Regions from separate parts of the Homo sapiens genome. Here region 2 is linked to region 1. Evidence: fine-mapped expression QTL. A gene starts in region 1. The other region holds a variant in brackets. All regions are shown on one strand. Distances are from middle to middle. Region 1 holds the start of STAT4 (signal transducer and activator of transcription 4). Region 2 overlaps STAT4 (signal transducer and activator of transcription 4).

What was found. PIP is the estimated chance that this variant, and not a neighbour inherited with it, causes the effect.
Region 2: its variant is the best candidate, but not a certain one, in a credible set for the expression of STAT4 in whole blood (TOPMed, PIP 0.68).

The regions. Positions count from the first base shown.
Region 1 is chr2:191,149,623-191,152,428 of GRCh38, reverse strand. It overlaps STAT4 (signal transducer and activator of transcription 4), which reads left to right and starts at 1,435. Exons shown (of 24, transcript NM_003151.4): 1 at 1,435-1,482. RefSeq lists enhancers at 1,016-1,095, 1,226-1,275 and a silencer at 1,746-1,795.
Region 2 is chr2:191,078,628-191,081,433 of GRCh38, reverse strand. All of the region lies in intron 3 of STAT4 (signal transducer and activator of transcription 4), which reads left to right. Among named protein-coding and RNA genes, the nearest start is that of STAT4-AS1, 59 kb to the right of the region's middle. The variant C/T (reference allele first, on the strand shown) is at 1,481.

The DNA of each region.
Region 1 (2,806 bases):
GACAGCTTCTCCAGAAGAAAATCAGACTTTGCTTAGTAGCTTATGGAATAGCCTGAAATTGGCACTTTCTTATGTAGGGTCAGAGCAGCATAAGCTCCTGGAAACTGCCTGCTCAACAAGCAGTGGGGACCAGGCCTACCTAACCAGGAAATTTACAGTGATATGGAAAGTGTGACTTTGGATTGATTGACCTATTTGGGGGTGGGTGGTAAGTTTAAGCACATGATAATGTCACCTGGGAGAGAAGAATCCAGAGGGTGTACCTGTGTGAAACCCGTCAGGGAAGAGGGAGGCAGGCCTTTCACCTTGGTATATTGCTCTAAGCATGTGTATAACCAAATTGAGTGACACTTTCTACCTTTCTTTCAGTCTGTCTGTCTGTCTTTATTTTTGTCTTTGTTTTACTATTTTTACTTTCTTAAACATTTTTATTGATTTTTTAATATACGGTGGGATTTTACTGTGTTGCCTGGGCTGGTCTCAAACTCCTGGGCTCAAGGAGTCCTTCCACTTCAGCCTCCCAAAGTGCTAGGATTACAGGTGTGAGCCACACGCCTGGACTTCTCTTTATTTTATTGAACCCCTACTGTGAATCAAGGGGTTAAGAGCTAACTACAAGGAGATGAAATGAAAAGACCACTGAAGTGGGAAGGGAAACACCTGGGCTATTATCGGGCTCCGTGGCTAACTTATTGAGTCCTCTTGGTCACCTCACTGGGTCTCTTCAGATATGAAAGAGGATTTAGCATTAGATGGGACCAAGACTTCCTCCAACTCTGTGATTCTAGAACAGGCTGATGTCACAAAGGGAGAAGAACGCACCGTAGCAACCAGGGGCAAGGCTACTCAAGGAGAGTAGGAGGAGGCTAGGTCAGGAAGGGCAAGCACTGGTGGCCTACCCAGGACTTGGCCCAACCCTCTGGGTCAGGTCACCCTCGTCGGAGTGAGCGGACCCCGCTGGAATTGGAGCCCAGTAAGGTCTATGAGTTTGGTGTTTTGATCCTGGCTACCCATCCCTTCCATCCCAGGGGTGGTTCACCAGGCTGAGTGGAGCCTTATACTAGGGAGAGAGGAAGCTGAAGAACTGGGCTCCAGGTAAGTAACTCTGCAGAGGATCTCAGATTGTCTAAGGAAACCACTGAAGAAAATGTATGCCCCGCCCCTCCCCTTTTTCCTGGCACTGCTGAGCCACCTGCAGTTGCGAGAGCCGCTGGGAGGGATAAGAGGGAAGAGGACGCCCGGTGAAGGGGCTCCAGCCTGGCAGTTTCTGCGTGTTAGCATTTCTAGAATAGAGTGGGTGGGAACTGACCCAAGTAAAGTCCCAGAGACTCGAACACTGACGCACAGGAAAGCCTCAAGTGGGAGGAGAAATGCAAATCCCCTACTGATGATGGCGTCAGCGGCTTTCTCCTAGGGACTGTGAGGGGCGCTTCTGACTTTGGACTTGAGCACTGCCTGGGACCTGTGCTGAGAGAGCGCTAGGTAAGTGGCCAGACCACACCTTCTGGCTGCCTCTTGTAAGGAGGACATGCTTATTATGCAGGATACTCTGAAGCTTTGCTTTCCCTTGGCGTTTTGACAATTGCTTCATTTTAACCTTCCTGAGGAGGCTTATTATAGAAGGAAGCGCCCGACTCCACGACCCACAGATGCGCCCTGGCACGGGTTCTCCGCGGAAACCGCTCCGCAGGCCCGCGCCACGGTGCCCGGGCGAATCTCCCTGCGGGGGCCAGGGGAGCTGCGGCGGCTGCGGAGGTGTGTCCTCGCGGAGGCTGAAAGTGAGCCCCTCTTCACTTTCTTAGCCAGCTTCTCTAGAGCTGTGATGTCTGACTTTAGATTAGCGTACCTGGATTTCAGAAAAAAGCTTGCAGCTACGGCAGCCGGTGACTGTGGCTTTGATGGGCGCGAGTGACATTTTAGGGCAGGTCATCTCCTTTTGCAAGCTACAGGCCACAGAGCCAAAGCGGCACCACCAGCTCACAGACGGTGGGACAAAATGCCCCTTTAGTGGGATCTTCTAGGAAATGCACGCAAAAAGGACAGACAGGCACTGAGTTTTCAGAAGCAACGTCACAGTTTTCATGAGAAAGAAGTAGCCCCTAGAGAGTGAAAGCAAAGAAACCTGCTGAAGGATGTCTAAAGGCGTTCCCAGAGGCTGCAATAGAAAATGTCCTAGGACTATGTATTCCTTCTTCTTCCTTTTTTCAGCTTTGAATTCAGCTCTCCGAAAGACTCAGATCTTAGTAGTGATTTTTTTCGGTGTTTATTTTTATTTTTTTTAATTTTCCTTTTATTTTCATTTGACACACAATTGTAAATATTTATGGAATATACAGTGATATTTCAATAAATATGAACAATGTGTTATGATCAAAGGATATTCAGCATATCCATCACCTCAAACATTTATCATTACTTTGTGTTGTGAACATTCAAAATCCTCTTAGCTTTTTGAAAATATACACTAAGTTATTGTTAACCATATTCATCCTAGTGTTACAGCACTAGAACTTATTCCTCCCATCTACCTGTAAGTTTTAGTTAGAAAATAGATTTTTCATCCAAATCATAGCGGGGGTTTAACAATAGTATGATGAAAAACTGTAATGCTATTTTCAACTCATGTTCTCTGTTGTCATTAACTAAAATAAATTGATAGATAGGACAATGTTGATAGTAGCATGAGAACAAATGTTCCAATTTTGTGTGGAATATATACACATCCGATGGAATATATATACATCCGATATCTGGAAAAACAAATGGTTCAGACTCAGGAAACCTCAGGTTGTCCCTTAGAAGCCTC
Region 2 (2,806 bases), 71 kb after region 1:
CCGTTGTGGAAGACAGTGTGACAATTCCTCAAGGATCTAGAACCAGAAATACCACTTGACGCAGCAATCCCATTACTGGGTATATACCCAAAGGATTATAAATCATTCTACTATAAAGACACATGCACACATATGTTTATTTTGGCACTGTTCACAATAGCAAAGACTTGGAACCAACCCAGATGCTCATCAATGATAGACTCGATAAAGAAAATTTGGCACATATACACCATGGAATACTATGCAGCCATAAAAAAGGATGAGTTCATGTCCTTTGCAGGGACATGGATGAAGCTGGAAGCCATCGTTCTCAGCAAACTAACACAAGAACAGAAAACCAAACACAGCATGTTCTCACTCATAAGTGGGAGTTGAACAATGAGAATATATGGACACAGGTAGGGGAACATCACACACCAGGGCCTGTCAGGGGATGGGGGGCTAGGGAAGGGATAGCATTAGGAGAAATACCTAATTTGATGACAGGTTGATGAGTGCAGCAAACCATCATGGCACATGTATACCTATGTAACAAACCTGCACATGTATCCCAGAACTTAAAGTATAACAAAAAAAAATTTTAAAGAACTTTTTCAAAGGTATTATTAAGAGTGAAACACGATAGTGGATGGATAATGACTGTGGTGACAGACGACTGATTAGAAGTCTTCTGGAATAGACATCTGAGAATCTACCATATATTCTGGTTCTCAATGATTCCATGGACATCTGCCTGAAAAGTTAAATACGAATCTCATCTATTAGTGATGTGGTTGTTTATCATGATGGTATGACTAGACTATTACAACTCTTTAATGTTTCAGTCAACAAACCATTTAACCATATGTAGAAAAAATATGAGTCCTGGTTCTTGTCTGAAACCTTCTACTGAGAAATTTTGGAGAGATCAAGAAAGTGCCAGCATCAAAACTTACAAAATGAAGACAATAATTGTGCACACTCTACAGAAATATGCATTGCTGTCATGCTTGATGGCCCAGAAGACATTATTTTATGGAAAAATATGAGTGCCAATAAATCTAAGTTTAAAGGAGATTCAGAAAAATTGAACTCTAAAGTGAAGTAGTTTTAGGAAGACATTAGCCAATTTATTACACATATACTTCCCTTTTAATATATGTACACAATACTGATATATTAGTAAATATATATATCTATGTTGAAATAAATCAAGAGTTTTACCAATAAAGAAAAAATAAAAATTCTAAGTGATAAAAAGCATTGTGGTATACTTTGTATTTTTGTTTCAAGGCAAAAAGCATTACTAGAGATAAAGGTCAGTGCATGGTAATAAAAGATTTCATTGACCACTAATATATAAAAGTCTAAATGTGTATGACAGTAGCACAAGAAGAAAAATTCACAGAGTAGATTTTAACTTACCTTTTTCAATGACTGCAAAAATCTATCAGGCAAAGAAAAATCAGCAAGGATGCAGAAATTTGAACAAAACAATTAA[C/T]AAACATGGTTTAATAAACCTGTATGAAACATTTGTACCCATCAACTGCAAAATACATATTTGTTGCAAGCTCACATGAAACATTTACAAGATATTAATATGCTGGGTCATAAAACAAGTCTCAACAAATTTAAAATGATTGAAGTCATTCAGAGAATGTATTCTGATTAAAATTAAATTATTCTAAAAATCTGTAAAAAAAAGATAAATAGAAAATCCCTATGTATAGAAATTAACAAATACATTTTTAAATAAGTCACCTTAGGACAAAGATGAAATCCTGATGGAAGTTAGATGATTAAAAAGGAGGAAAATTCTATCAATATCCACATGATATATGATTTGTATATGCAGAAAATTCCAAAGAATATACAGATATAATTTTAGAATTAATAAGAGATATTACAAAAGCATTAGAATCAGAGTTTAGCAAGGTTGCTGGATTCAAAATCAATATACAAAAATTAATTATATTTCTATATAACAGCAAAAACAATGAGGAAAAAGATATTTATTCTAGTATCAAAAAATACCATCTACAGAAATAAACCCAGTGAAACACATATAAGATTATAATGTTTAATAGAGAAACATTAAAGAAGACATAAATAAATAGATTAGAACACAAGTATAAAGATGCCAAGTCTCCCTAAATTTTACCTAAAGATTTAGTGTCATTCAAATTCTCAACCAGGGTGTGCATATGTGTGTGTGCGTGACTTGACAAGTTGATTCTAAAATGTATATAGAAATATAAAGAAGACCTATTCTACTTGACATCAAGACTTACTATAAAGCTGTAGTAAAAAACACAAAAAGATTATCTATTGATGAAGCAGAGAGAGAACCATAAGATGGAATGGAGTCCAGAAACAAGCCCACCCACAAAGGAACACTTGATTTATGACAGAGCTGGCCCAGCAGAGCAGTGGTAAAAGAATAAGATGTTCAGTAAATGTTATTGGAATTTGGTAGACATGTGGAAAAAAATGAAAGAAAACTCTCATTATTAACAAGCTCCAAGTTAATTACAATCAATGGTGCAAAACCACAAAGAAAAATCTCCATGCCTGCAGCTTACAGAAAGATTTCTTAAATCATAAGAAGCATAAAGTTTAATAAATGATTTATTAAAATTTAAAACCTCTTCATTGACACTAGAAGATAGGAAAAAGATAAGCCATAGAGTAGAAGGTATTTGCAATAAATTTGCATGAGAAACTGATACACTACAGAAAATGAGCAGTTTCTCTTTTTCTGGCATGCTGCTTCCTTCCTCCCACTAACACACACTTAAGGGTTTGTTTTATTGTTATTTTGAGGTTC